Linked DNA regions of Homo sapiens: region 2 is linked to region 1. A link means that fine-mapping ties the variant in region 1 to the expression of a gene that starts in the linked region. Tissue or cell type: whole blood. Region 1 holds a variant in brackets; the other region holds the start of a gene. All regions are shown on one strand. Distances are between the middles of the regions.

Region 1 (8,265 bases):
GAATGGGCAGAGCCTTCCTCTCAGGCTTCAGGCAGAGGGAAAAGCTCCCTGACATGACTTAGAGTAACTCATTTGGTCATAAATGTTTGAGAGAGGTAGGAGCTGTTGGTGGACCTAACAATAGAAAAGGATTTTGCAATGCATAGGCTTCTAGGAGTTAAACTGGCCCATATATCTGAGTGGATGGGCTACTTTCTGACTCACATGTCAGACATGATCTATTCACTGCTAATATAATGCTTGTGATGATTTGTTTCATTCTCACACAAGTTGTCAGCTCTCTGATTTTTTTCCAACCTCGTATCAGAATTCTAGCTTTGGTGCCTAAAACCCTAGAAAACATGAACCTAGCTTCTTGCCACTTTCTAAAGTCTAACACAGGAGGCTCTTGGGTATTTTCAGAATGAAGCCCTTCAGTACAAGGCTGACAGCTGCTTACCTGCCTTCTACCGGATTCTGGTTGATACTGTGCAGTGCTCATCAATAGGGTGCCTGGGCTCACAGAACAGGGCTGCTGGGCCCCCATGTACTGTGGCCATTCTCCATTCTCTCTATCTGCTGGCCTTCATAGCCCTTGACCAGCTTTTTCTTGCCAGGCCAGGAAAACACAATCATCTGTCTGCTTTTTGTTTGCTACCCCACACAGATGACTATGAAAATCAAATAAAAGAGCTTCAAGGGGAAGACCAAGTTCCATTTGTTACAGCTTGATTTTGCTTCATTTTGGAGGGAAAAATCAAGTGTTGGAATTATCTGATAACTTCCGAGTGGACATATAGCTGGTTTAATAGAACGTTCTGGAGCTGGGCCCTGAGTGCCAAATAAGCTGCAATTACACAATGCTGTCCCATCTGATCCTGAGTGATACCCGGGCTTTTGTGTCAACCCAGCACTGGGTCTTAGTGGATTTTCAGTCGAGTCTGGGCCTTTCAAACCCTGGGCCCATCTTTTCCTTGTCTCTTCTCCATCTTACCACCAGTCTGTCCTGCAGGGGTCCCAGCAGGTCTAAAGCCTGGGCCAGTAAGGGGAGAGCACAGAGTGGAGAGCCTGGACGTGGTGGGTGGGAGTGAGCTTAGGGGATGGCCCATAGATGCCACAGCAGGCTAGAGGTGCCAGCTGCAGATGAATGTCACCACAGCCCTCCTCTCAGCAGTCACCGACTCTGCTGACTGTACCTCCTCAGTGCCTCCCATACCCATCCCCTCCCCTACAGACACCAAGTCTTGGTGACCCAGCTGCTCCTAACTCCTCACATGCCTGGTCTGCCCTTCTCCCTCCTGCACCGCCCCTGCCCCTGAGGCACCAGAACACTCAACCATTCTCCAAATAAGGGAGGCTGTTTGTCTCTAGGCCTAGGCTTGGGCTGATCTCTCCGCCTAGAATGGCCTCTTCTCCTCCTCAACTTGGCAAACCCCTACTCCTCTTTCAAGGCTCAGCTCCACCTTCAACCTCTCACAAAGCCTTTCATGTCTCTACACAGAATTGGCCATTCCCTCTTTTTAGGCTTCCACTGTCCTGAACAGAAATCAAGGTTCCTATGAAAATACATTGCTCTAATTTATCTCCCTATATGTTGCCTTGTTAGATGAGACTGTAAGTCCCTTGAGGGCAGATGTCTAATCACATCTGTATCCCCAACACTTTCTACACTGGGTACGGACAGTGAAGACACAAACACTGAACAGAATGCATGGGTGGGTCAGCTCCTTACTCATGTCCTAGGTATCTTTTTTTCTTATACTTTTTTTTTTGGTGGCGGTTGGGGGAGCGGTCAAAACAGAAAGTGATAACTGGCTTTTCAGAATATGGCAAGTCCTAAATCCAAAGAGCTAAAAGTTGGCTGATTATAAAAGTCATCTTCTTAAGAATATAGGAATCTAATCTCAGATCCTGAGAAAAATGACTGCTGTCTGTTGTTGGGCTCATCTTTTCCCCCAGATTGGCCTGCCTAATACTAGTACTTCTATGAAGTGGTCCTGCAAAGAGCTATTAGTCAAACCTATTCCACAGCTTAGAAATGAAAGAGACACAAAATTTTATAAGTCCTTGAAGGCAAGGTCTACATCTTTATCTTCCCTGAGGTGCTAAGCACAATATCTTCTAAAGGATGCTTGACAGTATTTGTGAAATAAATATTAAAGAAAAAATATTATAATAAGTCTTTGGCATATTTATCTTGTGTCTAAGTGAAATGATTTACAGAAAATGATAGTTTGTGCTCATTTCCATATTTACCCAAGAAATGGCAGAGGAAGGGAGTGATAAAAATATTGATCACATGTATGAGTTAGGATAAAGGAAGAAAGATAGTACATATTACTCCAAATGACAGTTTTTTGGTAATCGATATTTTCCTCTTTAAAGCACAAAAATTTTCCATTTCAACTCTTTATACTGTTTTAAAATATGTATTACGTTCTTCTCTGCCTTAGTGAACTGAAGATACCAAATATAGTGGAACATTTTCTTAAGGATTCAGGAGTAACAAAATGATCTGCTGTTTATAATATGCCATGGATATAGACAGTTCTACACATTAAGCTGCACAAAGACATGCCTAAGATTTGCTTTCTTAAATCCTTGTTATTGGCATGTTTTCTTTTTCTTTAACAATTTACCTCTTTTTCATAAAAGCAAAGCACAGATTGTATAGTTGTACAACTCTTTGCCTCTGTAACATTAAGCTTTCCTGCAGACACACACTAGTAGATCAGAGCCTGAGACAGCATTCTCCTAGGATATTTCTCATCCACGCGCAGTAACATGAGTACTGTCCTGTGGGGCTTTCACACTGTAGAAGCTTCTAAACATTCTAATTTCAGAATCAAACACATTTTAAACTTGTAGTTAATTTAAGCAATCTAAAAGTATATTTTGGATACCCACTCATGTTTGTACTGGGTGTCATAGAATAACAAGTTTGAGGATTTTTTTTTTTTTTTGTCCATAAGACACTCAGAGTCTGCTGGGAAATAAAGGACAAATATGAAAACATATATAATACAGGATTATAATTACACACTGATGGAATAAAGTGTAATTTTTAACTCACTGTCACAATAATATATAGAATGCTAACTCCCTGTGAACTTGTGGGATATCAATGATAAAAATTACTATAGCTAAGTTGCAATTTGGGAGCCACAGGTAAACTTTGGTCTTTTAGAGTACTTATTTCTGAGTTATTTGTTGAGGGTGCCAGATAATAAAGGTTTAAAACCCCTCATATGATTAACTGGAAATATATTTTATAGATACTTATAGCAAAAACATAATGAGCCATTCACTCCAGCTCAGAGCTACTGAATCTCTAAATCCAAGTCTTTTTTCAGAACAAGGAGGCATGAGGAATATCTTGTCTGACTTCTTTGGCCATGGTAAAGCATTTCTTTCCTTGTTCATCATGAATGTATGAAATGTATATCTAAGCCCAGAACACTCTTGCAATTAGAGCAGAACATAACTGACAGCCTATTCTGGCTTATCAGTGCCAGGACACTTTGAGCAAGTAACTTTATCCAACTTCCTAGAATATTCAAGTACACAATGATGCTGTTTAGAGGAAGAGATATTG[C/T]CTTATTCATCTGTATCTCTTCTAAAAGCCAGCCCAGGGCCTGGCTTATGTAACATATGCTTAGCAAATATTTTGAGCATATAATATGTCCATTAATATGATATTACCTTTCCACTTTCCTCAGAACATCTGTGTTTTTCGAAGTGCAATCCTGTGATTTTTTTCACGCCAGAATTGCCTCTATATTTCCTACAATTCAGATTCCTAGGTTTCATTTTAGACTCACTGACTCTGAATCTGCCAATAGTGAGGGCCAGGAATCTGCCGTTTTAGTAGGCAACCTAGGTAATTTGAGACTTACACTTTTCAAAAATTGCTTAGAATTTTATCAAAAGAAAAGGGTAAAATCTTACCACAATAAAGCTTGGTCTTCTCATTTCACAAACTAACTCACCATTAAAATTATCTTTGAAATGCAGTTACTGTAATAATTTGAACCTTTTATGTAACTTTTCCCTTCATTACTCTTTAATGGCATTCAAGCTGAGAGTCAGACTTGGACAGTGCTGTTATGTTTTCAGTAAACCAATGAGGCACAAAATGGTTTCCTGGAGAAAACATTGATAGTTTGGGACATTAGCTATGTGGGAAAACTCAACATTAACTGTCTCCCTAGACAGGGAAATGAAAAGTCCCTATTTCAAAACATTCTCCATAAGACCTGTAAAACTCTGATAATTTCTGTGGCATTTTACATGATAGAAGAATAGGACAGGTTACAGAGATGTGAAAATGCAATTCAGTAAACAAATACTTACTGAGCATCTATAACGTAAAGCCAGGCCCTGGGCTGGCTTTCAGAGGACACACAGAGATGAGTAAAACAACGTCTTGTGCCTTAGACAGTCTGAGTATAGTGTGACAAGGGCAGCGACTGGCAAAGCAGCATGCTCTTCGTTCTGACCAAAGGATTACATAAACCACTACAAGGAGATGGGATTTTTGCCAGATTTTGAGGATGTTGAGTTAGGCCCTACACGCAAAGGGAACAGGGTAAACAAAGGCACAGGAGGAAAGCATGTTCAGGAAGTGACCCCCAGTCCCTGTGGCTGGCGCTAGGCTTTGTGGGGTGGAGGAGTGGCAGGAGGAGCTGAGGCTGCAGGGGCAGGCTGGGGCCACGTGTGAAAGGTCTACTGCCTCCATAAATAGATTCTGGCCTCACTTTCTATATTTGATTTTGCCTGACCCATCAAGCTGAAGCAACTTTTGAACGCAATTTGACATTTTAAGAACACTTGATGGAAATCCAAAGCATATTCATGAATACACATTTTCATTTCAGAAGGAAGCATAATTTATTCAAGAGCATAACTAATAGTATGAGATCTAAAATGCTTTCCAGTTTATCTTACATGCAAACTTCTTTTCTAAGAGACAGCCCCTGGTACCATATTTAAATCAGTATTTTATAACAGAAGCATTCACCAAGGACTCATAATGAGATTTCAGTGAGGTTGAACCCAGAATGTTCTACCTTCCCCCAAATTTTACTAATAGGAGTCTGTATTTGATTCATTTTCTACTTTATTATTCATAAAATGGATTTAAAACCTTGAAAACAAGGCATTAATATTTTCTACAGCAATAAGATATATTAACCTAAAATTTCTGGACTACCTTTTTAGGCAATTAGGATGTATTTTAGATTAAAGAAGCTTAACTAGCTCTTATAATGAGCTTTCACTGTACAAATGACAAAAGATTTTTCCTTAGAACTAAGGCACCTTCCCTTTGGTCTCCTCCTGCATGTCAGTGGTTCTGTCATTAAACAACAGACCACTCCTTTCTGCACTTCCTAACAAAAATAGTTACGTTCCTGAGAAGGGCCTCAGGAAAAAAAAGTCAAAAGGAAAGCTGGCTGGTTTTAAATACCTGTGTTTCCACTTAGGGTATCATTGACTCATAAGACTTATATAGACTAAATTATTTTAGGCTTTCTAGGAAGTTATCCAACAGAAGAGCCAATTACAGTGTGGCAAAGCTGACAAAATGCACATGTAACCACATGAGCAATGGAGTCACTTGAGCAATCTGGCCATATCTATTCCTTTATTTTTATGTTAAGAAGGCAATTTATAGATTTCCAGGAAAAACTATCCAGTATATGACTAATATGCCCCTTGGCTAGTTTGCCATAATTCCAGAAGCTGTTTTCATCTAAATTCAAATTATTCATGGTATCTGTGACAACACACTTTTTAAAGACAAACATTTACACGAGAAAAATTCAGCATAGGTTTTAACTGAAGTCCATATTCTAAAATCTTTACAACTCAAAGCAAACCTCCAGGGTCAGTGCTAGCCACAATGTCCGGTAATACAATGTTTTCATCTTTAATTCCTATTAGAAGAGTACATTCTGGACAATATTTTCAAAGAGTTCCTTACATGAAAATGTGTACCTGGCTCCATACAGAAAAGCAGGCTGTGTGAATGTGCAGTAAGTATGTCATTAGCGCATGTTTACAATAGGAGGAAATGAAGAAAGTAGAAAGACTCAGTCCTTTGACTCCCAACGCATGAGGACAGAATGACCTCATCTCAGTATGCCTCCTCATTTGGGCCTGGCAGGGCATTAACAATAAGATGACGGGCTGAACATTATTAGGACACTAAAGCACAGTGGACTCTTTGCCACTTACTATAAGCAATAATGATTGTTATAACTCTCATCTATTGAGCACTTCTCATATGCCAAGCACAGTGTTCAGCATTTGGCATAATACTCTCTTAAGCTTTGCAACAACTGCATGAGTTAATAATGTATTATTATCATCCTTATTTTATGAATAAAGAAAACAGATTTAGCAAAATTCAGCAACTTGCTCAAAATCACATGGTGCTATTAAGTTGCAGAGATAAGATTGGTCTGCAGAAGGACCTTTCCTTTCTGTGGCTTATTTCTGTTAAAGAATACACCTGGGAAACCTTTGTACACATGAGATTTACTCAGAAAATTTATAAAAAATGTAATAAGGTAAAGGCAAGGGCCATTAACCAAATGATTCCGATTATCCTGCTTGCCTAAATCTTTCCCTGTGGTGGTTAGATGCTGCCTGTTACAGTAACTCCTCATTTAACAGGAAGTCAGACGATTGCTAGTGCCCAGAGCACAAGTGAAAACCCTGAGCAATGTAAAACAAGTGTCTGAGTATTGGTGCTGTGATAAAAGACCTTGAATTTTATTCTGAAAAAACTGGAGACATTGTTAATGACACAAGGTCTAATGGCCTAACTGTATGTGTAATCTAAACATATGTACAATTGCCTGCATATATAGTCTTGTATGTAAAATCTATTTATATGTATGATTGATGCATAATCTTGTATGTACAATCTGGTAACATAACAGGGAGAGAGCAACAAGAAAAGAAATGGTAACCAACAGCAGTGGGAAGGAGAGGAAAAAAACCCATGAAACCCTGTAATTTGTGGCCTTCTAGTTTAGGGAGCAAATACAGTAGTACATTACTCAATGGCCAATGGACATCACTCACATATAGAGAAGCACAATTTTTGATGCTCTTAATGACTGAGATATTTTAAAAAGTTATTTTAACTTTAAAATTGGACAGATCCGTGTTTGAACCCTGGATTTAGTCACAATATTTGTGTAATAAAAATAAAGAATTTACTTTTGTAGGATATTGTGAGAATTGAGACAATATATGAAATCACCTAGAATTTAGTACTTCTTCAAAAAAATATTATTTTCCTTCAAAGAACTCTTTCACAAGGCAAAGAAGAGTGTGATAACTTGGGATACTTTTTTCCTTGTTAAAAATGTAATCAGATTTAGCCACTTAAAGGTACTGGCATGAATTCTTGGGAAAATGTAACTATATAGAATCTTTCATTTTCCAACAAAGCCAGGAAGACAGTGTTTATACTACTGAGAACTCAAACAGTCAAGGTAGCTTATCTACTTAAGAGTATGTCAGACCTTGGAAAATCTAGATCATGCCTTTATACTGCCCTCTAATCCCTTCTTGCAATACCTTTGTTATACTTTGTTGCACAGTCTGATGTGTTTATCCAGAGTCTTAAATCTACAGAGCCACTGTCCTAAGAAATGTTTCAACGAATAATTTAAAGACAAAATTAACAATGGTGATGAATATTGGGACAATCCCTGATGGTCTGTCTTGCTGCTTGAAGATGAGAAAGGGAGGGGTGGGATACAGAAAAGTCCCATGCTCCTGAGAAAAGACTAATTGTTCCCGAGCCATGACAAGTCAACATCAGAAGTGGTTTTCATCCTGATTAATCAATCAATGACAACTTGCTTCAGTGACCATGACTCTGGAATCAACCAGTCAGAGACAGCCTCACACTGTGGAAGGCAGCCAATCAGAGGCTGACTCACTCCACTGAGTCCTCTTCTAAGGCTGACCTGACCCCTTCCTGCCTCAGCAATGAACAAACATAATCCACACTTCTGAGGAACAGCAATCCACTCTCATCTTTGTAACCAACATTAAACCAAACTCAACTCCTGCCCACAATCCTATATAAAATCATCAGTTTGCTTTGTTCAATGAGAATATCTCTGACCAAATAACCATTCCTACACTAAGTAATCAATAAATTCAGCTTTCGTGGTTTCATATACTGAGTGTGGTCTTATCTCTTAGCAGTAATTGACATTTAATCAAAAAATAGACTAAGATTCATTCATGAATACTAGAGAA
Region 2 (8,000 bases), 130 kb after region 1:
AAAAAAAAAAAAAAAAAAGGGGGGTGGGGGGCAAGAAAATAGCCGAAAGACAAGAAAAGACATTTTACTGAATGGGATATATAGATGGCAAATACGCACATGAAACAACATTAGCCATTAGGCAAAAGCAAATTAAAAACCACAGTGAAATATCATCACTACACACTTAACAGAAAGACTAAAATTTTTAAAATGGTGACAACACTACATGCTGACATGAATGCTGAGAGACTGGTTCTCTCCTACACTGCTGGTAGGAATGTAAAATGCTACAGTCACTCTGGAAAACATTTTGGCATTCTCTTTAAAAACTTGCAATTTCCCTACAGCTCAGCAATTGCACTCCTGGGCCCTCATCTCAGAGAATGAAGACTTAGGTTCACACAAAAACATGTACACGGAGGTTTACAGCAGCTTTATTCTTAATCAACAAACACTGGAAACAACGCAGATATCCTTCAGCAGATGACCTGTTAGACACACTGTGGTACTTCCATACTGTGGACTGCTACACCCAACCCACCTGGAATTATGCTGAATGAAAAGGTGAATCCTAGAGGTTATGTACTTTATGATTCTATTCATAAAATATCCTTGAAATGACAAAATTTTAGAAATGGAGAACAAATTAGCAGTTGCCAGGGGTTCTAGGGGAGTGAGGATGAGAGGGAAGTGGATGTGGCTATAAAAGCATACCACTTTGTGGGGTAGAGACGTTCTGTAGCTTGACTACAGATATTCTATCAGTGTCAGTATCCTGTTGTGATATTTACTGTGGTTTGTGAGAAGTTGCCATTGCAGGAAACTGAGTAAAGGGCACATAGCATCTCTCTTTATTATTTGTTACAACTGCATGCGAATCTACAATTATCTCAGAATAAGTTTAATTAAAAGAAAAAGCCAGATACAGAACAATACGATCTGTCTCTTAACTCCCAAATTCCCAGTTGGCTGGCCACACACCACAGTCTCAGTTCTGTCCATAACCAAGTTTGGGGGATCTCTTCAAGTTTGCAAATGTCACTTCTACTGAGATCCCTCTGACAACTTCAGTGAAGTCTCTCCTCAAAGCTTTTTTTTTTTTTTTTTTTTTTTGAGACAGAGCCTTGCTCTGTCGCTCAGGCTGGAGTGCAATCACTGCAACCTCTGTCTCCCGGGTTCAAGCGATTCTCCTGCCTCAGCCTCCCGAGTAGCTGGGATTACAGGTGCCCGCTACCATGCCCAGCTAATTTTTGTATTTTTAGTAGAGATGGGGTTTCACCATGTTGGTCAGGCTGGTCTCCAGCTCCTGACCTCAGATGATCCACCTGCCTGGCCTCCCAAAGGACTGGGATTACAGGCGTGAGCCACTGAGCCCGGCCTCTCCTCCAAATTTTCAAGCTGTGTATTTTAAATCATAAAATGTTAGAGCCAGGAACATTTGAAATAATGCCTTGATAAAAGCGTCCATCAGACCCCCGAGCACCCTTCCTTTCCATGAATTATAACCAACGGAAATCCGGTGCACTTAGCATGTCCAGCTTTGAGTGAAGCCCCCAAGCTTCCTGCCCCTGAGACTGCCGCCCCTAAACCTCTCTTGCATGGATTCTGTAGAGCTGCCCCGACCAGAAGTCACTTAGCCACTCCTCTGCTCCAGGCCTCGTGGCCTGCTGGAGGCCAGACAGTGGGTAAGTCACGCTCAGCAGTGCCTACAACTCAAGCCACTGCTCAAAGGCTGTTGTTTTATTTCTCAAGTTAGACCACAGGCTCTGTAGCAACTTGGGCCTCCTTGGACACACACAGTGTGACGCTGAGACACAGTCCTCAACGCTGCTATGGTGTAGAATTTTTTGCGGAGAAAGACAGGAAGGCCTCTTGAGGTCAGTGTGAGACAGGGACACTCCACTGGGGCATAGGTATATCACTCACAGGTTGAAGGTAGGTAGACTGAGGCTCAAAGAGCAAGCGGAGGAGCTAATGTTCAACCCAGGTGGTGTGGAGTCTCAGTCCAGTGGCCTTACCCTCCACGGCCACGTTGCTAGTTATACTGGACAGAGCTCAGACTGTGCCCTGGCCTGTGTAGATGCACCAGAGGTTTTATCTGGGGGTCACAGCCGCTGGGAACGGGAGAGTTGCTGGGGATTGCCAGGAAGGGACAAGGCATTTGTAGCCATGCACCATCTGCTTTTACACTACCCTAGAGTCAAGTGGACCCCCTCCAGCATTTTTTTTTCCCCGAGATGGAGTCTCACTCTGTCACCCAGGCTGAAGTGCAATGGTGTGGTATCGGCTCACTGCAACCTCTGCCTCCCGGGTTCAAGCGATTCTCCTGAGTAGCTGGGACTACAGGCGCATGCCACCACGACCGGTTAATTGCCCCTCCAGCATTGTATGTGTCTGACTGCAATGAAGTGTGAGTGTGTCTGTGTGCGACTGTGTGTGTATGATGTGAGTGTGTCTGTGTCTATGTGGGGGCCAGGTGTATAGTCTGCATATGTCTGTGCACCTCTGTGTCTCTGTGGGTTGTCTGTGCCTATGTCTCGGCTTGTGTGTGTGCATGCATGTGTGGTCTGTGTGTGTCTGTATGCATGTGGTATCTCTGGGATGTGTGTCTGTATGTCCCTGCGTGCAGTGTAGTGACTTTGGGAGTGCACATGTGTACACGTGTGGTGAGTGTGCGGCCCTGCGCGAGTTGTCTGTGTACGTGTGGTGCCTGTGGGTCTGTGTGCGCGCGTGTGCCCGTGGGTGTGGTGTGTCCTCCCGCGCTGAGGCTCCCATGAACCCAGCTCAGTTCAGGCCTCCCTGACAGTCCTCGGGCGGCCACCCCGGGGCGCGGCTGTCCACGAGGCGCGGAGGAGAGGAGTGCGTGGCTGGGTCGGCGGGCGGCGCCCCCGCTCCTCCCCGCGGGCCGGGCACACGTGGGCCCCGGGCGCCGCCTCCCCGCGCCGCCCGCCGCCCGCCGGGTCCCGCGCGTCCCCACCCACCTCGGGCCGCCCCCGCCGCCGAGCCGGCCCAGGGATAAAGTGGCGGCGCAGACGCCGCACCCTGTCGCCGCGAAGCCGGTCGCGCGCAGCTCGTCCCGGCCCTGGCCCGCCGCAAACGAGGATCCGCTGCGCTCGGGGAACGCGACAGCGGCGCTCGTGGCCCCGGTAACTGCCTCCCGGCCCCTGCCCCAGCCCGCCAGTGCCGCCGTCAGGGGTGGGGAGCAGCACTGGGGTCCCGGACACGCCCGGCGTGGGCTCCCGCTACCCATGTGTGCGTGTGTGTGTGTGCACGGTGTGTGTGCGCGCGTGTCCGAGTGTGCGCGCGTGTGCGCGCGCGCGCGCCCTCCCTGCTCCTTCGCACCAGCCCCCAAACCAACTTGTCCCCATCAACTCCATCTTTCTAGTCCCCACCTTCCCCGGTGCAGACACCCGGCGAAGCCCACCCGGTTTTCCCAGCGGCATTTCCGATGACAGCTTCGGGGCTACGTGTCCTGTGCTGTCGGAGACGCACAGGAAGCAAAGTTTGTGAGAAGCCTTGGGGGCGACTTTGCCTTGGGCACCCGCATTTGTGCGTCTGCGAGGTGCCTCGGTGTGCGCGGAGCTAGTTTCCCAGTTTCCCGGGCCCCTCCCTTCTCCGAGCCCCTCTAGCGATTTGTTTAGGAAAAGTGATGACATGAACTAGTAGTGGAGAATCGCAGCGCCGCTCCCCGCCCTGGGGAGGGAGGGGAGCCCCGGAGAGCCTGCCGGTGGGAGCTGGAAGCAGGCTCCCGGCTGAGCGCCCCAGCCCGAAAGGCAGGGTCTGGGTGCGGGAAGAGGGCTCGGAGCTGCCTTCCTGCTGCCTTGGGGCCGCCCAGATGAGGGAACAGCCCGATTTGCCTGGTTCTGATTCTCCAGGCTGTCGTGGTTGTGGAATGCAAACGCCAGCACATAATGGAAACAGGTTTGTCATGTATCCTTGGAATTTCAGATGGGAGGAATAATCTGAGTATCATCCACCTCATTATTGTGCCCACTTGAAACTGTTCCTTGGAGATTTTAAGATAGATGGGTCTTCTTGCAGCTGGGTCTTTGTACCCATAGAGCTGACTATAATTTCCACTTGATTACAGCTAAAATAGTCTTTAAGATGAAGTTTCCTGAAATGATTTAAAATAAACACAGATGGGAAGGGGGAAAAACTGTAATGAGGCACTTAAAAAATAAAGTGAGCATTTTCTTAAGAACAAATGGGATTTTTCAGTCTTGGAGAGGTTTGCAAGAAATGTATGTATGTTTTAAACCTTTGAAACAGAGGGGTTTTTTAAACTGCTTTTAAAAAAATGTTACTGACTCTGAACTAGACTTTTCTCTCCTATCCATACATGTTCTTGAGATATTTCTGACTTTGGAATATGTCACTTTTCCTTCTAGGACCTGAAGACCCTTCCAGCATGCCAGAGGAAAGTTCCCCCAGGCGGACCCCGCAGAGCATTCCCTACCAGGACCTCCCTCACCTGGTCAATGCAGACGGACAGTACCTCTTCTGCAGGTACTGGAAACCCACAGGCACACCCAAGTAAGTCTTCCCCAGAAAGTCACCCCAGGTGACAGGGGAGCATGGCCCCTGCTTCTCCTCTGGTCGTTATCATGTGCCATCTGGGGCGGGGCCGCTTTCTCTATGACCTACTTCCCCTGCCGTTTTAATGTTAGGCTGAGCAATGTTAACAAAGCTAAAATGTATACTTTATAATTTTTAAATTTAAGAAGCAGGAATTCTTTTTTCATTATAACAACTCAGATATGGATCCTACCGTATGGCAATTTTCAAAAATTCCACATGACTTTATTTTTTGTACTGGAGTTGATTTCCGGTTGTACAGGCATTCATTTAAAATCAAACCCGACAATTAAGGAAAATCCCCTAGATGGATGAGAAACCCGAAGTAATACATATATCTTCACCTTTGCTCACTTTTCCTGCTTGTTTCTGAGCTTCTGAAGATGGCATACATGTGTCACCAGGAAGAAAGGGGCCTGGGTATTTCCTTCTGATTCCTTGCCAGCTCAATTACTTTGTACATTTTCCATCAAGGATTTGTCTTGCTATTAGAAGCAAACATTGGGACTATACACAAGACAGCTGGTCTCCTGCTGCTGCTCCCTCCTCTTGGATGAAGCAGGAAAACCCTGCTTGTTTGTGTTATTTGGAAAAAGAATTTATTTGTGGTAACCAATTGGCCTGGTGACAAGAACATTTCCTGTTCCAGGGACATTTTACCTGTTTTGTAGGCCTCTTGTCTCCTAGGGATCATTGTGTGGTTGGATTATGTCTCTCTTTGTGCTCCAGTAATCACCCAACCCTCACACAGGTGTAAAATTTCTTCTCTGTCTTCATCAAGGTATCTATGATCCAGGGAGCTGCACGTTAAAAACACAGAGATATGGACTTTTAAAACCCGGCATAGAGTCATAGCTTCAGGGCAGCTACACAGACTGGCTATGGTTTCTCTCTAGTGTTTTCAAGTGGGTAACGTGCTGAGAAGAGTTCCTACCAGTTCTGGTAATACATTTCTTAAAGAATGTGTCTGTACGTGCATACGCATTAGAGGAAGTGGGGGGGTTGTTGAGCATTATGATGCTAATTAATCATTAATTCTCCACTCTGACTTAACTGGCTGTAGAATTGCTCAATCTTGGATTAATTTCTAACAGATTAGTGGTTTGTGGTAATTTGATCAATATACAGAAAGAAGACAAATAATTGAAAATAGAAGTTTTTAATGTCTGAGTCTCAGACTTGGGGGGCTTTGTTGGTTAAGTAGTGAGGTTGTCCTAGTTCGAAGTCAACAAAAATAAAGAGGTTCTGCAGTCCTGGCACAGGGGGAGGGTGGTGGGTGAGTGGGTTAGAAACGGTCAAGTTGGCTGCCCTGCCCTCCCTTCGCCTGCGGGTGGTTTTCACAATCTCTGTGCTGAAGTTGCATTGCAGGGAGCCCTCTCTGCTCCGTTGCTTTTGCTCTAGTTAGAGATGATAACTCAACTTCTTAATTTAAACTGAGCTGCCTCTTGGATGTCAGCGTCCGCCTTGTGGTGGGTGCTGATGGGCTTAAGAACAGAGGTGGATGGTTGAGGCAGTTCGGCCCCAGAATTTGGAAGAAACCTATGGGTCTAGAAAAGGTTAAGGGAAAAAAATATTGAGGGCAGGAGCACTGAAATAGAAAGAGCAACAGAACCATGAGCATGTATGAACACTTTCCATAGTGTTATCCTCAGTTTACCAAAGAGGAAGGGGCTGGCCAAGGTCCTACCTACCTGTCCTGCCCTGCCTCCAGCCCCTGGAGATGATGCAGAGGTCCTGGAGGCCCCTTGCCATGACTCATGTTAACCCTGTGCTTGCTGGATCTTGGGGCAGTCTTGGGGGTCCTAGGGTGGGGGCTCAGGGCAGAGGTTTGTGCCAGCCAGCATGAAACACCTCTGTATCTTCATAACCGAGACCAGCTGCTCAGCCTGCCTGCCCTCTTGCATGATCTGGGAGACCCCCGCAGCATCATTATAATAAGTATTATTATTATTGCCTGCACAGAATCATTCACTCTGCTTTTAGGAAGAGGGAGGGGACCTCAAGTCACCAGGGCTTCAATCTTTCCCCCCAGGCTTTTTACCCCTCTTCAGCAAAACTAGGGCCTCGCTTTGTGCAATCCTGTCTCCTCCCAGTTAGGAAGAAAGAAGGGAGGAAAAGCAAGGGGCAAAAAAAGAGGAGACTGAACCCTCCCCCACTACTGTACCAACTGTGGGCAAAACCTGGGTTAAGAGCACCTCATCTCCAGCCCCGCCTCTGCTATCTTTCTCATAGAGACCCTAGGGACCTCAGAAGCCACCCCGGGGGCCTGTGGATATCTTATTATGCAGAAGGATCTGTGCCAGCCTCGGTTAGTCAGTACTGGTTTGGGTAGATTTTCTGGCCAACCAGTTACCTCCAGCTCCTGGAGCCTGCCGTGAGCACCTACAGAGACATATTGCCCCCAGAGGACCTGCTGGGTTCCAAGACTGGCTCTGCAGGTGGCTCGGAGCAACACTAAGCCACAGGTGTCAGCCGCTGCACTGGGAACCTGGCTTAACCCGCTTTATGCAAGCAAATTCTGTCGTATAAACACCAGCCTCCTCGGACTGGACCCTGAGAAAGAGAAAGCATGTCTTGGGTTAGCCTTTACCATCAGTGCTGTTTTTAACGTAGCAGGCCAGAGTCTCCGTATTTCATCATCAGGAATCAGAACTTAAACCTCCATTTGGCAGTACCAAGGCAAATTCATGCTGTAGTGTTTACGGTAATAACAAATCTTATACTTAAGGCATGGCACAATTATCTCATATTAATTGAGTGCCAGGTATGTTCTAGGGTCTGGACTAGATTCTGTGCACACATGACCTCATTTTACCTTCACATCAATCTGTGAGACAAGTATTATTATTCTTACTATTCCCATTTTACAGATGAGGAAACAGAGGTCCAATGTTACAAAGTATCTTTCTCCAAATGACCCTGCTGGCAGTAGTGGGATTTGGTCCGCAATCTTCTGACATGGACCAAATCCAATTGTTCTCCTTACACCACCAAGCAGGACAGATTTCTTCTTTATAGGTAGTGTTTTCCTGATAAATTCTTACATTTTGGGTTAGGGTAAACATCATTTCCTAGGGTAAAGAGGAAGAGAATAATTAATTCTCCCTAATCGTTTGCTCATAATATATCAAAGGTGGGAAATCAGCTGGGTTCCGTGGTACACATCTGTAGCCCCAGAAACTCAGAAGACAGAGGCGGGAAATTCCTTGAGACCAGGAGTTTGAGACCAGCCTGGGCAACGTGTTGAAATTCTGTCTCTTAAAAAAAAAAAAAGATTAGAGATAGGTATCCCTTCTGAAAACAACAACAACAATAACAAAAAACAGAATTTATGCCCTTGCCTGACTGGCTGCCTTATCCAATTCAACATGCTGGAACTTAAAAATATTGGCCGGGTGCAGTGGCTCACGCCTATAATCCCAACACATCGGGAGGCTGAG

What was found. PIP is the estimated chance that this variant, and not a neighbour inherited with it, causes the effect.
Region 2: it holds the start of MGLL, and the variant in region 1 is fine-mapped to the expression of MGLL in whole blood (INTERVAL, PIP above 0.99).

What each region holds. Positions count from the first base shown.
Region 1 is chr3:127,951,139-127,959,403 of GRCh38, reverse strand. The region is part of intron 4 of KBTBD12 (kelch repeat and BTB domain containing 12); the gene reads right to left. Among named protein-coding and RNA genes, the nearest start is that of KBTBD12, 40 kb to the right of the region's middle. The variant C/T (reference allele first, on the strand shown) is at 3,575.
Region 2 is chr3:127,818,212-127,826,211 of GRCh38, reverse strand. MGLL (monoglyceride lipase) reads left to right here and starts at 3,697. Exons shown (of 8, transcript NM_007283.7): 1 at 3,697-3,903; 2 at 4,374-4,518. The coding sequence starts at 3,894. RefSeq lists a silencer at 2,736-3,255 and an enhancer at 7,666-8,000.